Homo sapiens: one gene and its partners. The protein of the gene in region 2 interacts with the protein of the main gene of each other region in a biochemical or structural test. Each region holds a gene or a part of one and is shown on either strand. Other genes may lie near its edges.

Region 1 (7,027 bases), on a different chromosome or scaffold from region 2:
TTAGTGGCAACTAGAGAAGGTTTGCTTTTGGTCTGAGGTGGTCACTGGTTTCTGAGGTGCCAAGCCTGGTTGGAGGCACAGATAGTCAGCATTCATAAAGCTGCGTAGAACCATGGGGTCCCAATGGGGACATGAAACTAAATGATCCAGAAAAGCCCGTGGACTTTCCACCAGTTGTATTGAATACATACCTGATGGTGTGAGAATACAGAAAGGGGCTGTGGTGCCTGCTCTTAAGAAAGCTTATCTTGGCTGGGCATGATGGCTCACGCCTGTAATCCCAGCACTTTGGGAGGCTGAGGAGGGTGGATCACTTGAGGTCAGGAGTTTGAGACCAGCCTGGCCAACATAGTGAAACCCCATCTCTACTAAAAATACAAAAAGTAGCCGGGTGTGGTGGCGGGTGCCTTCAATCCCAGCTTCTCAGGAGGCTGAGGCAGAAGAATTGCTTGAATCCAAGTGGCAGAGGTTGCAGTGAGCCGAGATCGCACCACTGCACTCTAGCCTGGACCACAAGAGCAAGATTCCATCCCTCCTGGCCAAAAAAAAAAAGCTTATCTTGTTGGGGACACACGACATGGATCCTGAAGCTCCTCTATAGTCTACTGGACTGAGTCCAGTGCTCACAGTCTAACCTACTTCTTTTTTTCAACATATAACTGTGCTCTGATCTTTCTGAACCATTCACCATTCTGGGAATGCATCTCCTGCTGTTCCTTCTGCCTGGGATGACTTCCTCTTCCTAGTCTGACTACTTGTATTTCCAGAATACATTCTACACCTCAGGCCTGGGAGGCAGGGTAGATGGTGGAAGGAATCCAGACTCAACTGGGTTTGAATCCAGACTCTGCTTATCCAAATAGTCAGGGGAAACCAAGTTAACTTTTCAGAGTCTCTTTTCTTTTTCCTTGTAAAATGGCCCATCAGGATTGAATCAGAACCCATAAAAAGTACCTAGGCTGGTTCCTAATCCTAGTAGGGAGCTCAATAAATATATATAACAATAAGAAAGCTTTTGTATTTAAATATTCCAGCACCCACAACGTTGTTCAGCAGTTAAACTTCATAACTCTCCCCACTGGACTCCAGGCTCTTTCAGGGCAGGACGGTAGCTATTCTGGGTTGAGCCCTGATACCTGCCTCGCAGTAGGTATTACATAGAACTTGTTAAGTACATGAGCGATAACTGAAATTCAGAAGATGAAATGATACCTTCAGACTGTGGTGGTCATGGAAGGATTCGTATATAATCTAAAATTTGAACTGAGCCTTGAAAATGGTAGGTCTTAAATTCGTTCACTTGGAACAAATGTTTACTTAGCACGTACTATGAGTAAGTGCTCATGGGGCATGAGCAAAGGGCAGGCTCGTGTGGGTGACCATGCATAGACCAATTGGGGCTTGCTGAGGAGCTGGGGGCCTGAGGTAGGGCTGGATTATGCTGAGCCTCAGTGCCTGAGCAAGAAGCTTGAACTTCTTTTTTTTTGAGACGGAGTCTTGCTCTGTTGCCCAGGCTGGGGTGCAGTGGCACGATCTTGGCTCACTGCAAGCTCCGCCTCTTGGGTTCACACCATTCCCCTACCTCAGCCTCCCGAGTAGCTTGGACTACAGGCGTCCGCCACCACACCCAGCTAATTTTTTGTATTTTTAGTAGAGATGGGGTTTCACTGTGTTAGCCAGGATGGTCTCGATCTCCTGACCTCGTGATCCGCCTGCCTTGGCCTCCCAAAGTGCTGGGATTACAGGCGTGAGCCACTGCACCCGGCCGAGCTTCTTTTTCTTGAATTATTATTATTATTATTTTTGAGATGGTAGTATAATAAAACCAGGGTTAGAAAGTTTGTCTCGAGGCAAGACTCTTGTAGTAGTTTAAACATACCAAAAAAAAAGTGGGGGGGTAGAAATGCAAGTTCAAAAAGTCACAAAATGTCGATTTGGGGAAAGCACTTGTCTCAGCTGGCACTCAAGGCGGTTGAGCTGTCTATCAGCAGCATGAGGGTGTCCTCTCTCTGTGGGTGCCTCTGTTTCCACACAATATTGGCTCTATCCCTCTCCCAACTCATAGAACTCTTAGATAAGCAATCAAACTGTGAAAGGCCTTGAACTCCAGCCCAGAGTCTTGCCATATAGGACAAAGTATTGTTTATGGTGGCTGGAGGTAGGGAAGGTACTTAGTATCAGCAGGCCAAATGAACTTTGGGATAAGTAGATTCCATTCTTGATCATAAATGAGAAATAAAAACTACTCAGTGGGTCTGGGATCACTCTTCTCCAGATAATTCTCAATGGAATGGATTTCATTGATTTCTCATATTTGAAATTTATCCCTGGCTAAGACCAAACAGTAACTATCACAATGGGAAAGTACACTAGGCAAATACATATTTTAGAATCTTGCTTCTCCTTCTATTTTTGATATTAATTATTTAAAGTAAATATACTTGAGTATTTGAATTTCCATATGCTTTGCTTTTCAGAGGAGAAATCCAGGCAGCCTTAAATATGATCTGCATAAAAATATAGGATCTGTTCTAGGTAAAATATATTTGAAGAAGGGTGAAATTGAGTTGTCTTTATCTCTTCCTTGCTAGAGACATCTGTCAGTAGCAGCTCAGATACAGCAGGATTTTTTTGCTTATGCTGTTGGAAGGAACAGCATGTGCCAAGGCTCTGTGGCAGGCTCTGAAGGAGGCCAGCCATGGCTGGTGTGAGGCATGAAGCCTTGGAGTCAGGGCTGATGCCTGTAGGGAATTCTCAGCCTGTCTATAGTTGCTGGCTTAATGTTGCACAGTCTCCACCAACTGTATTTTCCTAACAAAAGTCTAGTGGGTTTGTTTTCTTCTTTCTTGTTACACAGATGCACACAAGTGCTGCAAGAACAGCATTCCTCAAAGTGCACACTGTGGTCAAGCGTCCTGAGAATGTGGCTTTTTTCTTGCTAAAGTTCAGAGTGTTTTATAGGCAAGCATGGAGTTCAGTGGAAAGCAAGTAATGTCTAGGTTTAATGTTGCCGGAGAGACCCTGCCCTTTCTTTTCCTTATGCCTCAACAAAACAGAAGTAACTTACTCTATGGTTTCATACTAGATTATACAATCAGATACCCTTCCACAGTCAGAGTAACTAGGGTTAAACATTCCTCACCAGCAGTCCTGCTAAGTGTTTGTTTTTTTTTTGAGATGGAGTCTCGCTCTGTTGCCCAGGTTGGAGTGCAGTGGTACTATCTTGGCTCACTGCAACCTCCACCTCCTGGGTTCAAGCAATTCTCCTGTCTCAGCCTCCCGAGTAGCTGGGACTACAGGCGTGTGCCACCACACCCAGCTGATTTTTGTATTTTTAGTAGAGACGGGGTTTCACCATATTGGTCAGGCTGGTCTCAAACTGCTGACCTCAGGTGATCCTCCTGTCTCAGCCTCCCAAACTGCTGGGATTACAGGCATGAGCCCCCGCGCCCAGCCCCTGCTAAGTTTTTAGTGTTTAGTGTTTTCATGGATTGAGTGTTGGTTATGTAAGTGCCTTGTGGGGAGAGGCTCTGTTGTCTTCGTGGTGTGATACTGACGGCATAATTGATTCCTAGTTACTATTAGATAAGGTGATGGTGGGTTCAGGTGTAGATGACTATATTTATGGAATAATCCTGCCACTTCTAAGTCCCAGACCTTGGAAGATGAGCAGAGATGACAGTACCTGGGCTGTTTCTTTCCTGATGGTATTTCATTGCATCTGGCCATCGCTGGTGACAGCCCCCTTCTGTCTTTCTCCCTCCAAGCAGAATGCTGTTTATCCCATGCCCTCTCTCTGATCTTTTGGCATTTCAGTGATGCTGTCTGGTGAGTGAGCCTATTCACTAGCTACTCCTTGGCTATGAAGGTCCCTCTCTGGGCCAGGTATCTATAGCTAAGGTAATGCTTCACTCACTCCATCTTCTCCACTGCTGTCTGTTCCTTGGGTCCCTATGTTCACTTCTGTTAGAGCTTATCCACTCCAGGCGGTGGAACTCTCTGGCCAGCTTAGTCTTGAAATTCTGTTAAAGCTCCCTGGACTCTTTTACCTCCTTGATACACAGCATTTGGTTCTATTTTGTAATTCCCTGGCTTTTAGACTTACAGGATACTTTTGAGTCCAGAGTTTATTATTTGAGCTTTCTTTCATGGGGAACAAAATCTCCAGCCCTGACTTTTCAGCAGCTAAAATTAGCTTCGCAGAAGTGATCTGGACTGAGTAGATAGAGAATCCCTTGCCTGATCATTGAGGTGCCTGCCCATTCTTAGTCTGTAATTTCTTCCTGTCTTCTGCAAAAAGAAAATCAGGAAAAATTTCAAATATTCTCACAGAAAATGGGATTCCCATTGCATCAGGCGTTTCATCAGAGGACAGGAAAGAGTAACTTGGATGGAGTGGACTTCTATGCTCCAGAAACTGTGCTGAGAGGCCTTGCATGCTCTACTGTGAGCCATCTTCACGGCATCCACATGTGCTTCCTATTCTAGGGGTATTCTATCTTCAGCTCAAAATTAAGGAACTCACCCATGTTCTTACAGTTAACAAGCGGTGAAGCCAGGATTAAAAACTAGGTTTGGCTCTAAAACCCTTGCTCTTTCTACTCTACCTTACTCAGAATCGATCCTGGGGGAAGATGGAAACAAAAATACAGATTCCCTTTTGTATACACATCTGGCTCCTTTAGAATTGCATCATGGGGAACTATTCTGCTCTAAAGATCTTTTCAGATAACTTTTCCTGTGTCAACCCACTAACTTTTGAAACTGCTTCCACAGTCCCTTCTTCTTTCTTCCCAACTCATGCTGCTAAGCTAGTCCCTGAAACATTTCATCTTCCCAATCCCAAACTCCTAGCTCCTCTTATCTGCCAATTCATGTTGGCCCCACAGTCTGACATTCCAGCTCTGTGCCCCTTGTAAATCTAGAAATCCTCACATCCTACTCTTATGGGCTTGTTAGTTTGAGATGGAGTCTTGCTGTGTCACTGAGGCTGGAGTGAGTGGTACAATCTTGGCTCACTGCAACCTCCACCTCCCGGGTTCAAGCGATTCCTGTGCCTCAGCCTCCTGAGTAGCTGGGATTACAGGCACGCACAACCACGCCCAGCTAATTTTTAAATTTATTTTATTTTTTTTTAAATTTGAGATGGAGTTTCACTCGTTGCCCAGGCTGGAGTGTAATGGCGTGATCTCAGCTCACTGCAACCTTTGCCTCCTGGGTTCAAGTGATTCTCCTGCCTCAGACTCCTGAGTAGCTGGGATTACAGATGCCCACCACCAAGCCTGGCTAATTTTTGTATTTTTAGTAGAGACAGGGTTTCGCCAAGTTGGCCACGCTGGTCTCAAACTCCTGACCTCAGGTGATCCGCCTGCCTCGGCCTCCAAAAGTGCTGGGATTACAGGCATGAACCACTGTACCTGGCCTTTATTTTTTATTTTTTGAGGCAGACTCTCGTTCTGTCGCCCAGGCTGGAGTGCAGTGGTGCAATCTTGGCTTACTGCAGCCTCCGCCTCCCGCCTCCCGGGTTCAAGCAATTCTCCTGTCTCAGCCTCCGGAGTATATGGGGTTATAGGTGCCTGCCACCACACCTGGCTAATGTTTTTTGTGTTTTTAGGAGAGATGAGGTTTCACCATGTTGGCCAAGCTGGTCTCGAACTCCTGACCTCAAGTAATTCACCCGTCTCGGCCTCCCAAAGTGCTGGGATTATAGGTGTGAGCCACTGCGCCTGGCCTACCCTTATGTTTTAAAAATATGTTAGCCCCAACTTAGGGTAAAAGTTACCACTTTCCTTTTCTATTCTTGATGTATATTACTGTAAGAAAAATCCATGGGAACCCATGCTGCTGCAAGTTTATTATATATATATATTTTAACCTAAGTTGTTTCTTAGACATTTTAATTCAATTCATTGACTCTTTGTAGTGAGCTAATGCTGTGGCCATTAGTTCACTGTCTTAGTTCACCGCCAGCTCGGGGGCTCCATTCTCTTTTGGTTTACATAGAATTTCTTTTAAGTTTGAAATAGCTGTCAGTTTTTTTAAATGGGGACATTTTATGTAAATCTAGATTTCCAGAGTCTCTTGAAAATTGAAAGGTGGCATGCTGGCCTCCTCTTCCTCAGGCAGTTGTCTTCTCATGAAAAGCAGCAGCTTTTCCTCCGTCCCCTCTCGGCCACCTTCGCTGATTTACCTGTTTGACCCTAGAGATTATTTTTCTGTGGTACTTTTGCTCCATATTCTCCAAGTTCCTGATTTTTGTCAGCTACTTCGTAGGAGAGATTGAGGCTGAGGTAAGTGACCTTGTTTTCTTCTTTATCATATTTTTTTCTACTTCTCTTCTGCCCCTGGAGAAGAGGTATTTCCTCTCACCAAGGCTAACCCCAGTTTCCATGTTCTCCATATCATCTCTTGATACAGAAACATGCTGATCGTTTCCTTAATGTTAAAAATAAAAACATCCAGGCTGGGTGCAGTGGCTCATGCCTGTAATCCCAGCACTTTGGGAGGCTGAGGCGGGCGGACCACAAGGTCAGGAGTTTGAGACCAGCCTGACCAACATGGTGAAATCCTGTCTCTACTAAAAAAAAAAAAAAAAAAAAAAAAAAAAAAAAAAAATTAGCTGGGCATGGTGGCGGGTGCCTGAAATCCCAACTACTCAGGAGGCTGAGCAGGAGACTTGCTTGAATCTGGGAGGCAGAGGTTGCAGTGAGCTGAGATCGCACCACTGCACTCCAGCCTGGGTGACAGAGCGAGACTGTCTCAAAAAATAAAATATCAATATTCGTTGCTTCTGTTACTTGGTATCCACTTGCTTCTTAGTGTTTTATCAGGCCCAGACTTCCATTTTCTGAATGTCAGTGGCATTTTCTGTTTTCATTCTCTCTACCTCTTAGCATTATTTGGCATTGTTAACTATCCCATCTTAAAATTCTTCTTTTAGTTTTGATGACACTAAAATTTTGGCATTTTGTTTTCTGATTATTCCTTTTTGCTTCCTCTTTCTTTTCTCTCTTTCTCTTTCTCTCTT
Region 2 (7,765 bases):
GAAACCTCACCACCCCCACCCACACACCCAGTGTTTCCAGTTTTACTGAATCAGTCCAGAGTGGATGCTGGAGAATCTGCATCTCTTAGAATCTCCCAAGTGATGCCGATGCTGCTGCTCTGAGTGCTATGCTTTGAGAACAGCTGCCCTAAAGCACACTAATAGTTGTTACACATGCATCATCTCCAACTGCAGGTACTTTAAGAATTTCCCTTGAGAAACTCTAGCCTTCCAGAACAGGGAGCGCCTTCTCCATGCATTTCCGACAGCACCTGAACTGGAAGCAGCTCAGTACAGCAGCTCCAAAGAGGCTGGGGAGCCAGTCTGCCCAGCTTTGGAGCCTGCTCTGACACTTGATTGTTGTGTGAGTCCAGGCAACTTAACCACTCTCAGCTTAAGTGTCCTCGGAGTAAAACAGAGGTCTACTAGCTCCTTCCCTTCCATCAGGGAAACCGGAAATGAACACCTACTCAAGTCATCAATGGGAGCGCATCACTTCCTATTTCCCTGCCACCTACATTTTGAAAATGCAGGGGGAGAAAAATATAAGGAGGCAGGAGTCACATCTGTAATCCCAGACTTTGGGTGGCCGAAGCGGGAGGAACACTTGAGCCCAGGAGTTCAAGACCAGCCTGAGCAACAACATAGAGAGCCCTATCTCTACAAAAAAAATTTTTTTTTATTATCCGGGCATGGTGACACACACCTGGAGCCCCAGCTACTCGGGAGGCTGAGGCAGGAGGATTGCTTCGGCCCAGGAGTTGGAGGCTGCAGCAAGCTATGAATGTGTCACTGCCCTCCAGCCTGGGTCACAGCTTGCACAAAGCAAGATCCTGTCTCAAAAAAAAAAAAAAAAAGTTCCTTGCCCTGCCTGAAGTTGAGGAGACCATTTGTCTACCTCAAGTTATTATTTGCAGAAACCACACCCATATTCCTTCCTCCTCCACGTGCCCCTCTCCTTAAGAGAAAGGCCGCCAAACAACCAAGAGAAGTTCCTACACCCACTGAGTGTACCACAATCGAAACAAGAGTAAGCGACTCATCCTCTTGGAATCCCCTAGGTCAAGCTTGTCCAACCTGAGGCCCATGGGCTGCCAAATTCGTAAGCTTTCTTAAAACATCAGATTTTTTTTTGCGATTTTTTTTTAGCTCATCAGCTATCATTAGTGTTAGTGTATGATTAGTGTTAGTGTATTTTATGTATGGCCCAAGACAATTCTTCCAGTGTGGCCCAGGGAACCCAAAAAATTGGAGACCCCCACCCTAGGTTGTCCCATAATAAAAGGCAATATCAACATGTGGGAAAGATGAGGCGGCAGAGGTCAAGAAACAGAAGATCTAATAATCATCCAAGTGAGATTGAAGCCCTTCAAAGGTTCAGGCTTATGTAGTTAGCAGACGGAATTCCCCCACACACACCCGCCACTCCCCCAAGACGGAGTCTCACTCTGTCACCCAGGCTGGAGTACAGTGGGGCGATCTCAGCTCACTGCAACCTCCGCCTACTGGGTTCAAGCAATTCCCCTGCCTCAGCCTCCTGAGTAGCTGGGATTACAGGCGTGCTCCACCACACCCGGCTAATTTTTGTATTTTTAGTAGAGACGGGGTTTCACCATGTCAGCCAGGCTGGTCTCGAACTCCTGACCTCGTGATCCACCCACCTCTGCCTCCCAAAGTGCAGGGATACAGGCGTGAGCCACCGCGCCAGGCCAAGATGGAAATTTTAGTTACTACTGTCACCCGAGTCTTTCTCCGTTTGTTTCCTTGCACAAAATGGGTAGGGCTGTGGGCCCTCCCAGCTCAGGAGCCCTGGGGTGGTTTTAAGAAGGTAGAACTCCTGGTAGGAACCACCTGCATCAAGACCATGGATCACCTCTCTGAAGGTTAGCGATTCCAGGGACCCCACCTCCGAGCTGTCCTCCTACGTGGAAGTGAAAGTATTGGAAACAGGGGAAAGAAGCTGGTCAAAGACAGACTCCAGTCGTGGCGGTGCATGTCCCAGTTAAAAGCAAATCCTGGAAAATCTTGTTCAAGAACAGGGTCCCCATTCATAAATGAAAAATAATAATAGTGTTATTTTACCCACATGAAACTTGCCATAACTAGGTACCACGACCCACATGGACACACAGTGAGATTCCCACAAAGAGGCAAAAGGAGAGCCCTGGTCACTGAGACAAAAGATACAGAGACACCGGGACACAGAGAGGTACAACGGGACGTGGAGTTGGATCGAGCTGTCTCGTAAGGAATATCGGAAGGGGTGGGGACACTACTGGGAGATGGCATAGGTCCAGGACACTAATTAGGCTTTGGCTGAGATCAGATAAAGGAAACTGTTCGTAAGCTGCTTACTTAAAAAGAAAGGAAAAGGTGCGTTTGAGTTCAGGAGACTGCGAGTCCCAGAGCAGGAGGCGGGAGCCAGCGAAGGGTGGGCGTGTAAGGGGTGCAGTCGCTTCTCCCGCTGGGCAAGAGACTCCCCCTTTCGGCAGCCTGGGTTCCCCGCCTCCCCACCTCCTGCTCCTCCTCCCCCGAGCCCTAAGGGCCCGCAGGGCCTCCAGTAGCAAAGCCACTGGCCCCGCGTCCCCGCGTCCCCCTGCGCCGCGCCCCGGGGCGCAGGCAGGGACCACGCGGCCGGCGTGGGGGCGGCGCCACCCGCAGCAGAAAGCCCCGGCGTGGACCGCGTGGCGTAGGAAAGCGCTCCCCTCGCCCCCAGCCGCAGAGGGCTTGGGCAGCATCGGGCGCGGCCCCGGGAGAGTGCGTCCGCGGCGCCAGCGGCTGCAGGGTGACCTGTTTCGGGCGGGGACACTCACCAGAAGAACACGCGTGAGCAGAGGTTCGCGTCCTGCAGCGGGTTGGGCTTCACCTCCTGGTACACGGGCAGCATCTTGCCGGGCGGGGCGGGCGCGGGCCGGGGTCGCGCTGATCAGGCGGCGGTGGCCGCGGGCTCCGCTCCTGGACCTCAAGCAGGGATGCTGGGGCTCCGGCCGCCACGCCTGTCCGCTCGGCTGGAGCCTGTGAAGCAGCCGCTTCCGGGAGCCGGGCGCCGGCGGCACGCCCCGTCCCCGCCTCTCAGGCCCGCCGCCTCGGGGGCGCCCGCTACGCGCCGCCGCCTGGAGCCCGGGAGCTGCGCACCGCGTGCGAGCGCGGCCGGGACCGACGGGTGACGCGGCGGGAGGAGACGCGGCGGGAGGAGGCGAAGCTGGCGACGCCAAAGGGAGCCCAGAGCTACGCCCAGGGGTGAGGCGAGGGCCGCCTGCGCCGCTGGATGGAGAGGGTAGCAGAGCGCGCGGCAAGGAGGCCGGGTCCGGAGGTGCCCACGTGCACGAACCCGAGTGAAACTTTCCGAAATTCACTATCCGAGTCTAGGCGCCGACACAGAAGGTGGAGCAGGGAGGCGTCGGCTGTGCCCGCCCCTGCGCCGCAGAAACGCCCCCTCGGCTACGGGTTTGGGAAGACTGGGAGACAGCTGCCTCGTGCTCTAGCAGCCCGCCCCCTGGGCGCCTTTCCCTTCTCAGGACCAAACGACGGTGCCATGGGAGGCTCTTCAACCTGTGAGCCAAACATTTGACCTTGGACGACAGCAAAGTTTAGCCACAGATTATCCTTGTAGAGCTGCAAGACCTCAAGAAAGCCGGGTAACTCGAGAGTATGACCCAGATGAATTCGGGAGATGGATGAATGCTGTCGTCGATGGGGGCGGGCTTTAGGCATCTCACATGTTGCATGCTACGGTGGACCTCTGAGCTTTTTGCTGCCCCCTTAGATTGGGAAAGGAATATAAGAGGAAAGAGAGACTGCCTGATGATTTCTGTCGTCAAGCCCTAAAGCCTAACAGATAACAGTGGCAAACGACACGTGGGTTCCAGAATACCAGTGATGTTCATGTGCATTTCTGAGTGCGTAGCCTCACTAGTGTGTGTGTGTGTGTGTGTGTGTGGCAGTCTCACACACAGTGTCACGATTATGGCTCATTGCACCCTCGACCTCCCAGGGCTCAAGCAATCCTCCCAACTCAGTTTAAGTAGCTAGGACTACAGGCACCCGCCACCACACCCGGCTCATATTTTGTAATTTTTGTAGAGATGCAAAAATCAAAATCAAAGGCTCCAAGTTCAAATACTGATAATTTTTGAAGCCAAATGATTGTCATGGAGGTTTATTTTCTTCATATTTCATGCATGTTTGAGAATTTGGTTTTCTTTGTAATAAGATCATTTTATTGTTCCTTGATAATTTCTCACTTTGTTGCCCAGGCTGGTCTCAAACTCCTAGGCTCAAGTGATCCTCCCACCGTGGCCTCCCAAAGTGCTAGGATTACAGGCATGTACCACCACGCCCGACCAATTATCTCACTTTTAATTCTATCAGTGCCCCATTCAAGGTTATCCTTACTTTATAGATGAGGAAGGTGAAGCTGAAAGGCAGAACTTGTCCAGTCTTAGAGCCAAGAAAGGATAAAACATGATTTGCAATAAGCCTATGTCTAAGCATGGCCTGTCTCCCTGGTGGATGGCCAGTGTGCATGAGAAGTGCCCAGAATATGCTGGTTGAATGGCTGTAGGAATGAATGAACAAAATCTTGTTCCAAGCTTGTGTACTCCCACCTCTAAGTCTTCAGTCATTTCTGTGGCTACCTTAACAAGGTCAGCAGCTGCTCTTCATATCCACCCTGAATGAAAAAAAATGAAAGGCTCCAAGTTCATGGTGCTTGGAACAAGATCATTTTATTGTTCCTTGATAATTTCCCATGTATATTTGCTAAAATAGTATAGTTAATAGCTTTTAAAGAAAGCCTTACACAAACACATATTTAAAAGTCAAGCACAGGCTAGCCAGCATAGTGAGGCTCTGTCTCTACCAAAAGTTTTAAAAATTAGCCCAGGTGTGGTGGCGTACCCTTGTAGTCCCAGCTACTCGAGAGGCTGAGACAGGAGGATGGCTTTAGCCCAGGAGTTCCAGGCTACAAGGAGTTAAGAAGGTGCCCACTGGGCTGGGCACAATGGCTCACGCCTATAATCCTAGCACTCTGGGAGGCTGAGGCAGGTGAATCACCTGACGTCAGGAGTTCGAGACCAGCCTGGCCAACATGGTGAAACCCCATCTCTACTAAAAATACAAAAAATTATCTGGGTGTGGTGGTGGATGCCTGTAATCCCAGCTACTCAGGAACCTCAGGCAGAAGAATCACTTGAACCCAGGAGGCGGAGGTTGCAGTGAGCCGAGATCATCCCACTGCACTCCAGCTTGGCAACAAGAGTGAAACTCCGTCTCAAAAAAAAAAAGAAGGTGCCACTGCACTCCAGGCTGTACAAGCCCATAATCCCAGCACTTTGAGAGGTGGAGACAGGAGGATTGCTTTAGCCCGGGAGTTCTAGACCAGCCTGGGCAACATAGGGAGACCTCATCTCCACTAAAAATGTGAAAATTAGATGGGCATGGTGGAGTAAGTCTGTAGTCCCATGTAACCTGGAGGCTCAGGTGGGAGGATTGCTTGAGCCCAGGAGTTCTAGACCAGCCTGGGCAACAAAGGGAGACCTCATCTCTACTAAAAATGTAAAAATATGATGGGTGTGGTGGCGTGAGTCTGTAGTCCCAGCTGGAGGTTCAGGTGGGAGGATTGCTTAAGCCCAGGAGTTGGAGGCTACAGTAGGCTATGATCACACCACTGCCCTCCAGCCTGGGCTAAAGAGTGAGACTCTGTCTCAAAAAAAAAAAAAGTCAAGCACATAAGAATGGCAAAATATTGATAATTTTTGAAGCCAAATGATGTGTCATAGGGGTTTATTTTCTTACATTTCATGCATGTTTGAGAATGGTTTTCTTTTTGGAGATGGGCTCTCAGTATGTTGCCCAGGCTGGACTCAAGCTGCTGGGCCCAAGGGATCCTCCTGCCTCAACCCCTCCAAGTACCTGGGATTGTAGGCACTCGCCAGCATACCAGCTCATGTTTCAGAATTTCTGTCACAAAAAGGAACACAATATTTTAAGTTGACTACTGTGGGAAAGCTATGATCATTCAATAACCTACCTTTCTGATAGCTCTTTCTCAGATAATATAAGCTATAAACCAAAATAGTCAGCCTTCACCTGATTTACAGTGCCCTTTGAAACTTCCTAAGTTTTCTAGCCCAGTAAATGCTGAGCTACCAGTTCTACTTCCAAGCTAGAGAACCTGTTTACTAAAGTTAGAAGTCTAGTGACTTCCTCTGTCAGACTGTCCCAGAATGCTCTCCCTACCCCCAACAACTGTGTAAGAACCGTCATTAGCCATCTCCAAATTGCCAAAGTGCTCAGTCCCTTCGGCTCCTGCAGAGGCTTATTTTTTTCTTAATTAAGATCTTTTGGAACTTCTTAACATTCTTTTCTGAACATTAACAATGTGGTGTTTGGAAGAGATACTATAGAGCAGTGTCTGACTGCAGAGAGGAGTGGATATGGAACCAGGGGGCCAGGGCTTTATATCTTTTCACTTGTTACCTAACCTTTCTGACCCTTATTTTTCTCAGGTCTAAAATGGGGTCGGGGCGGGCGCAGGGGCTCATGCCTGTTATCCCAGCACTTTGGGAGGCGGAGGCAGACAGATCACCTGAGGTCAGGAGTTAGAAACCAGCCTCGCCAACATGGCAAAACCCCCTCTCTACTAAAAATACAAAAATGATCTGGGCGTGGTGGCATGTGCCTGTAATCCCAGCTACCTGCGAGACTGAGGCAGGAGAATTGCTTGAACCAGGGAGTCAGAGGTTGCAGTGAGCCGAGATCATGCCACTGCACTCCAGCCTGGCGACAGAGCGAGATTCTGTCTCAAAAAAAAAAAAAAAAAGATAAAAATTAGCCAGGCTTGGTGGCATGCGCCTGTAGTCCCACCTACTTGAGACGCTAAGGCAGGAGAATTACTTGAACCTGGGCTGCAGAGGTTGCAGTGAGCCATGAGCCAAGAGCTCGCTGCTGCACTCCAGCCTAGGTGACAGAGCTAGACTCCATCTCAAAAAAAAACAACAACAATAAAATGGGGTCAGGCAGGGCATGGTAGCTCACACCTATAATTTCAACATTTTGGGAGCCCAAGGCAGGAGCATCACTTGAAGCCAGGAGTTCGAGAGCAGCCTGGGCAATGTGATGAGATGCCGTCTCTACAAAAAATAAAAATAAAAAATAATAATAATAATAGTAATAATAATGTTTTTTAAATTAGCCAGGCATGGTGGCACACACCTGTAGTCCTAGCTACTCGGGAGGGTAAGATGGGAGGATCACTTGAGCCTAGGAGTTTGAGGCTGCAGTGAGCTCTGATTGCACGACTGCACTCCAACCTGGGAGACAGAGTGAGAGACCCTGTCTCTAAAAACATAAAAATACATGTAAAAACAAAATAGGGATCAGAATCCCCACTCTTCCTTCTTCACAGGATTATTGTGAGTCTCACAACTTGTGAATACACTCTGAAGGCAATATACAAATTAAAGGATGGGGGTTTTTTCCCATTCATTCAATAAATCGTTAGTGAACGCCTTCTGGATACATGACAGCTAGGCCAGGGAATGAGCCTGCAAAGACGAGGAAGATGTCTTCTTTTTTGTTTGTTTGTTTGTTTGTTTGTTTGTTTTTGAAACAGGGTCTAGCTCTCACCCAGGCTGGAGTGCAGTGGTGCAATCTTGGCTCACTACAACCTCCCGGGCTCAAGCCCATCCTCCCATCTCAGCATCCCAAGTAGCTGGAACTACAGGCACGCACCACCATGCCCAGCTAACTTTTGTATTTTTTT
Region 3 (6,939 bases), on a different chromosome or scaffold from region 2:
CTGCTTCAGCTCTGGCCTCCCCTTGCGCAGGCCAAGGTGCTCAAAGCTCTGTTCTCGCGGGGCTGGCGGGGGGGCGTTCAGTGATGTTCCCTGGTGCTTGCCTGGTCCAAGATGGGGAGACAGAGCCCATGAGAGGCTTCTCTGCCTCCCCCACTCCACACCCTTATTCCCCTGCAGCGCAACCAGGCCTAGGGCGCCAGCCTCACCCCAGTCCCCACCCCACAGGACTGGATCGAGTGGAAGGAAGCCAGATGGGCAGGATCCTGGGGCAACTCCTCGCACGATGCAATGCCACCAGTTCCGGCCAGGTGGCGCTGCGCGGCTACTGTTCCGGGCGGTAGCGTCCGACTCGCGCCTCCAGCAACGGGCGGGGCTAGAGCCGCAGTGGGCGGGGCCACGACGGGTGGGCGGGGTCGCCCCGTCGGCGGCAGCGGTTTCCTGCCTCTCCCCACTCTTGGGTCGTCGCAGTCCCCCGGCCTTCTCTCTCTGTCTGGTCTGTGGGTCTCTGTTGGTCACCTCCTTCTGTCGCGCTGGCTCCGCCTGCTCCAGTTTCAGAATGTAAAGAGAGGCATGGTGCAGCCTGAGGGAAGAGGCCCTAGGCGCGGTCTGGTTATGCTTGAAGGGCCATTAATGTCCATTAGGAAGCCCCGCCTGCCTGAGCAGCTCTGGACCATTACCGGGAGTCGGAATAGTGGCCCCACCCCCAGACAGGGCCCCAGGCCACGGCCACACCCCGGAGCCCCGGTCCAGGTCCAGGCTCGGGCTCCCTGAGATCGCTGGGACCTTGCTGGAGGGATGCGGGTTCAAGGCCCGAAGGAAAGGTCCTGCCAAAACAGGAGTGCACGGGCGGCCCCCACCCCGGTGGACCCCCCACCGACAGCCCAGGGGAACGGCTGAGACCTGCTCTCCCTCTGCTGGATAGGACCCACGCCTGGGTAGCATGCTGGCAGGCGTGGGTTAAGGGGGTTGGGTGGAGAGTTGGGGGATCTCCCAAGCCTCTGATTGCCTCTGCCTTGACTTTCTTCCCTCCTGCTGGGGCCCGGGGAGCCCACGTCACCCACACCCCATCTGCACCCCACAGAACCAGGAAAATAAAGTCCACCCTCCTCTCGATGCTGACCCTACTCCCTCCCGCCCACCTCCCTAGCCCTTTCTTCGAGACACCAAGCACTTTGCGGCCCCTGAACACCTTTGCCCAGGTGCTTCCCTTCGCCTTTCTCTGCCTCCAGCGCAGCACCCATACGGGCCAAGGTCAGCCTCGGACCAGGGCTGAGAGCTTCCGGAGGCTGGCTGGAGAAGAGGCCTGGGAGGGTTTGCCCCCGAGAGCTTCTAGGTCACCCTTCCTCGCCTGTTCCTCCAGGCCCCTGGACTCACTGTCCCCTCTCACTGACTCTGCACCTCCTCTGAAATCGTGACCTCTGGTTCCTCTCTGGCTGCCTCATTCCTCCTGCTCCCTGCTTTGCTAGGCCCACTTCCTTTGTTGCCCGGCCCTTTGCTACTCTGTTACCCTCCTCAGCTCCTTCATGGCTTTGGGGACTCTTTTGTTAACTCTGTAGCAGCAGTGTGTCCGGTGATATTTCCTTGGTTCCTGGCCCTGGTTGTGACCTCATGTCCCTTGTGGCCCCTCCCTCTGCCATGCTGTTCTCCATCCCATCTTTTTTTTTTTATTTGTTTTTAAATTATTTATTTATTGTTTTTGAGATGGTGTCTAGCTCTGTTGCCCAGGCTGGAGTGCAGTGACGCAATCTCAGCTCACTGCAACCTCCGCCTCCTGGGTTCAAGCGATTCTCCTGCCTCAACCTCCCCAGTAGCTGGGATTACAGATGCCCACCACCACGCCTGGCTAATTTTTTTTGTATTTTCAGTAGAGACGGGGTTTCGCCACATTGGCCAGGCTGGTCTCGAACTCCTGACCTCAGGTGATCCACCCACCTCGGCCTCCCAGAGTGTTGGGATTACAGGCGTGAGCCACTGCTCCGGCCCCTCAGCCCATCTTCAGTCACTGGGAGTAGGAATCAGCTGAGTCCTGGGCCAGGGAAGGATGGTGTATGCCCAAGGCTGATCAGGCGTCTGCCCCACCCAGGGCGGGTAAGGTCTGCAAGCCCCCTTACCCAGGGGACCTGGGGCTGCTGGAGTCTCCCATCCAGCCACCTCCCTCGACTCTAGTGTGGCCAGGAAGCTACAGCCTGCCAGGTTTTGGGTGGACCTGGTTGGTGTGGGATGACCCCCTAAGCCCAAACAGGTGTGGTATGTGGGGTGCGTGGTGGTGGGTCACACTGCCCACAGCCATCTTCACAGACTCCAAGGGTGGCAGCACCAGGCTGTGTCCAGGGAGGCCAGCCACAGGCCAGACAGGCAGCCTCTGGACATGCAGACAGAGAGATGGAAGCGGCCGGCCGGGCGGGAGCCTGAAGCAGCCTTACCCAGGAATTGCAGGGGTTGGGGTGGCGAGCAGTCGCGGCGCCTCAGCCTAAGTGGCTTTTAGGGGCAGCTGCCGGGATATGGGCACCCAGGGGGCCATGGCCCAGGAGGCTGCCCAGAGGCGAGCCCTGTGCTTGGGTGGGGGCAGGGGAGCCCAGCCCAGGGCCCCGGAGAGACGAGAGGGAGAGGAGGACTGCGCCAAGCCTGCTTCTACGGCTCACATGGGGAATTGCCTGGGCTGGCTGTGCCTGACCCCTGGGAACCAGGTATGTGCAAGGGGGCCTGGCTGGGCTGGGGAGGAGGGCAGACTGGGGCTGTGCCTGGACTCAGCTACCTTCCTATATTGGAGACAGAGGAAGAGCTGGGTGGTGAAGATAGCATGGACTCCGAATCTCACATCCCTGGGCCCAAATGGAGCTGAGGAGGCTTCGTGGGTCTTTTCCCTCTCCAGGCCTGTTTGCAGGTCTGTGAAGTGGCCGGTCCCCTAGGGTTGTTCCAGGTAAAATGCACTTAGGCCTAAATGATTTCACTGTGGTGGTGACTGTCCTGTTGGGGAAGGAGGGACACTCGTGCTTCAGGTAGAGGCTGAGGGACGTGGACGGCTGTGGGCAGGGGAGGGGAGGCCTGCTGCCTGCCTGTGGACACTGTGGAGCAGCGCCTGTGCACACCCAGAGCTTAGAGCCCAAATAATTCAGTGGAGTGTAGCCCATGTCAGGAGGTGGGTAGCAGGGACCCTCGAGACTCATATCCTTTTGTCACCCTGCAAAGTCACAGTCCAGGCCTGGGGTGGGCTGGGACACAAGTGAGGGGGCCGGCCCGGCCAAGGGAAAGAATGGCAGCAGGGCGTGGGAACCGACGCGGTGCAGATAGGCCGAACACGGTGGGTAGGCCAGGGAGTCTCCCAGCCACTGGCCCCCAGGATGCAGGGAGGGGCTGCTGCGTGTCACTTTTAAAGCCCTTTTTGCCTCCTGGGCCCTCCTGAGACTCTGCCCTGGGCCAGGGAGTCTCCCAGCCACTGGCTGGGAGGGATCCAGGTGAGACACAGCCGAGAGGAGACAGGCAAGGGGGTCCGGAAGGGCTTCCCGGGGAGGGTGGGGAGGGCTGTGGCCCTTGTTCTTACCCTTTGGCCCCTTTGTCGGGGTCCCTTGGCCTGGAGACCCTTTGTCCAACCCGTCGCCCACCTCAAGACCTGCCTCGATGCTGCGCATACAGTAGGTATCCAATAAATGTTCCTGGGATAGAAGGCAAAGGCGCTGGCACCAAGGCGGCTGCCCAGAGTAGGGGCGAGACAGAGAGGTCCCGGTGGTTAAGGGGTCCCCTAGCCCTGCCGCCTCCCCCTGCCCCGCCTCGGGCTGGCCGGGCGCGGAGGTAGGGGCCTGGCCGGGACGGCTGGGACTGGAGGCGGGGGCGGCCGGGCGGCGGGGGCGGGGAAGGGGCGGGCGCGGAGGCGGTGCCGCAGCCCGAGCCGGAGCCCGAGCCGGATCCCGAGGCGACGGGAGCCGAACAGGAGCCGCCGCTGAAGCCACCGCCGGGTGCCCAGCGCCGCCGCCGCCCCCGAGCTCCCCCGCGCCCCTGCCCGCGGGCGGCCGGTGGGCAGCGGGCGCCATGGCCGCGCCGGAGCCGCTGCGGCCGCGCCTGTGCCGCTTGGTGCGCGGAGAGCAGGGCTACGGCTTCCACCTGCACGGCGAGAAGGGCCGCCGCGGGCAGTTCATCCGGCGCGTGGAACCCGGTTCCCCCGCCGAGGCCGCCGCGCTGCGCGCTGGGGACCGCCTGGTCGAGGTCAACGGCGTCAACGTGGAGGGCGAGACGCACCACCAGGTGGGGGCCAGCGCTCGCCCCCGGCCCGCCGCCCCCTCCCCGAGCGCGTCCCCCTGGGGCGAGCAGGGGTCGCACGGGGGCCCGAGGGGGCTCCCGCGGGGAGGACGCGGACGTTGTCGGGAGGCAGCGGCCCGGCGCCTTCGGAGTCCCGGCGCAGGAAGCTCAGTCCTGCACGGGGGTGGGGGGGGGCATCCTGGCAGGGAGGGGCCCGCACTGCGGCTCCTGGCCGCTGGCCTCGCCCTTTGGTCGCGTTTTGGCCTCAGTGTGCCGTGAAGGAGGGTGTTGGGCCGCCTGGAGCCCCTCCGGAAAGGTGAAGACCTGGGTGCTTTTGCCTGGGTGTGTGTGTACACGTGTGCGTGTGAACACAGCTGGGCGTGTGTATGCAGGTCCCTTTGGGGTCAGCCATGTGTGCATGCGCCTGCCTGTGCGTACCCAGGAGGGGTCGCAGTAAAGGCATCAGTGTGTCTGCACCTGTGTGTGCTGTAGTGTGTGTGTGAGTATACAGGTCTGCACGTGTGCCTGTGTGTGTGCAGGTCTGGACTCCTGGGCGTATGGGAGCTGGGCTCTGTGTGTGTGCACGCCTGGCTAGTGTACTCATCACTGTCTGCAGGCCGGTGAGTCTTTGTGTCTGTACTCTAGTGTGTCCCAGCTGGTGTGTCTGGGACCGGGCTGAGTTGGTCATTGCTGGCAACCACATTCCTTAGCTACAAAGGCACTACTCCTCCTCAGAGGCTGCCTAGCCTGGCTGGGGTTACTGGCCGAAGCCTCCTGCCTCCTGGCTAAGGAGAACAGAGCCTTTTCTCTGTGGGTTCTGACCCCTGAGGTGTGTCTGTCTCCCACAGGCCAGGGACTCCCTCCAGACCCTGGTTGGGGTCCAGCGTCCACACACCCCTTTTCCTCCAGGTCCCCTGTCCCTCACAGCACCGATGAATCCATAACCTGTCTACATGGCTGGTCCTGGAACCTAGAGATTAGCAGGTTGGTTCAGCTGGACCTGGAGCTGGTCTCCTGTTTACCTGGTGCCTTGTCTGTCACTCTGTCGGCCGGCCCCATGCCTTCCACCCAGAGTGTCTGCTGTGTAAGGTTGTTTGCTGAAGAATGTGGGGATCAGGCCAGGGGCCTGGACCTGAGGGATTGAGGGTAGGGCTGCCAGGGCTGGGGCCAGGCTGCTGTTGGATAGTCACTGCCACCCTCGCCCTGGGAACACCTGCTTTTCCAAGGCCCTGTGGGGCTGGTCTCTGAGGACTGGACACACAGACCATGGTGGACTCTCCCCACTGCCCCAGGAGGGCAAGAGGGGCAGTTACTGCCCCATTTGACAGTTGAGGAAACTGATGCCAGAGATTGAGGGTAACTTGTCTGGGACACATAGTCAAGAAGCAGCTGGGCACTGGGTTCCTCTTGTCTCACTCTGGGTCATGGGGAGAGAGGAGGGCTGGGGGAAGATGGGCCTGGCTCAGTCCCTCCTATCTGTTCACCACCCCTGCTGAGCCCGGCAGCTGGTGGGGAGCCTTGTCCACCCTCCCCCAGGCCGCAGGTGGGAGTAGGGCTGCCCCTCTTCCTGCCCACTTCCCAGTGGGCACTGCTTTCTCTCCGCGGGTGTGCGCTGGCCCCCCGCGTGGTCCAGACACTTCACAGGCACCTGCACGCACACACCGACGGCCACCAAGCCACAGCTGTCCACAGGTGCACCTGCCTCTCCCCCTCGCCGGCTGCACCTGAATCCTGCTTCCCTGGCTGTGTGTGGGTGCCCGAGCCAGGAGCCCAGCCCTTCCCCTCTCTGCAGATCCAGAGGGAATGGGCCCATGGCCATGGCCTGGAGGTAGATATAAGGCCTAGGGTCAGGAGTTTAGACTCCCACACTGCACGGCAGAGAATGACGGGAATGGGCACAGACACACTCAAACTGGGGCCCAGGGAGACACACCTCTCCTTCAAACCTGGACGGAGACACAGACTTTGAAACAGATGGATGCATGCGCGCACAGGGACAGGCAGACTGAAAACCTGAAGGTCCACTGTGCACCATTTTTGTCACTTCCAGACAGGACTTACCCAGCGGCCCTATCCTGCAGCCCCTTCCCAGCCCCGCCTGGAGAAGACCCTGGGCTAAGGGCAAGGCTCTGGGAGCACCCTGAAGCCCTCACAGCCTGGGCCTCAGTGTCCGGAGCCTGAGTGCAGAGGGAGGGAGCCGCTGGAGTCCGGGGGTGGGGGGCGGGGCCGGCAGGCCTCTTGGTGCAGCCACCCGCCCATGCAGACCAGCCGCCTGTCCGCACGCCTGGGCCAGCCCAGAGTGGTGCCACTGCCCATGTGCTGCCCGGAATGTGGGCCACTGACCCGCTCCTATCGCCCATTCGCCCCAGGTGGTGCAAAGGATCAAGGCTGTGGAGGGGCAGACTCGGCTGCTGGTGGTGGACCAGGAGACAGATGAGGAGCTCCGCCGGCGGCAGCTGACCTGTACCGAGGAGATGGCCCAGCGAGGGCTCCCACCCGCCCACGACCCCTGGGAGCCGAAGCCAGACTGGGCACACACCGGCAGCCACAGCTCCGAAGCTGGCAAGAAGGTATGGCGGGCTTGGCCCACAGGGACCACCCTAGCCTCTCCCAGAGGCTCTCTCAGCTTTTGACGACGATCTTTGCCTTTGGTCACCTCCAGAAGTCTTGGTCTCTTCTGCCTTTTGGGGCTCCTTTTCTGCCCCA

Evidence for each region.
Region 1: the proteins of ABCC4 (region 2) and PDZK1 form a complex in vitro, tested with the Homo sapiens proteins (2 studies listed by BioGRID and IntAct, with this or other methods).
Region 3: the proteins of ABCC4 (region 2) and NHERF2 form a complex in vitro, tested with the Homo sapiens proteins (2 studies listed by BioGRID and IntAct, with this or other methods).

What each region holds. Positions count from the first base shown.
Region 1 is NC_000001.11:145,697,352-145,704,378, reverse strand, and holds part of PDZK1 (Na(+)/H(+) exchange regulatory cofactor NHE-RF3), read left to right. Parts: intron 1-7,027. UniProt on the Homo sapiens protein: A scaffold protein that connects plasma membrane proteins and regulatory components, regulating their surface expression in epithelial cells apical domains.
Region 2 is NC_000013.11:95,298,428-95,306,192, forward strand, and holds the start of ABCC4 (ATP-binding cassette sub-family C member 4), read right to left. Parts: upstream 3,025-7,765; 5' UTR 2,888-3,024; coding exon 2,814-2,887; exon of another isoform or gene 2,524-2,813; intron 1-2,523. UniProt on the Homo sapiens protein: ATP-dependent transporter of the ATP-binding cassette (ABC) family that actively extrudes physiological compounds and xenobiotics from cells.
Region 3 is NC_000016.10:2,022,980-2,029,918, forward strand, and holds the start of NHERF2 (Na(+)/H(+) exchange regulatory cofactor NHE-RF2), read left to right. Parts: upstream 1-3,922; 5' UTR 3,923-4,026; coding exon 4,027-4,239; intron 4,240-5,196; exon of another isoform or gene 5,197-5,217; intron 5,218-6,602; coding exon 6,603-6,803; intron 6,804-6,939.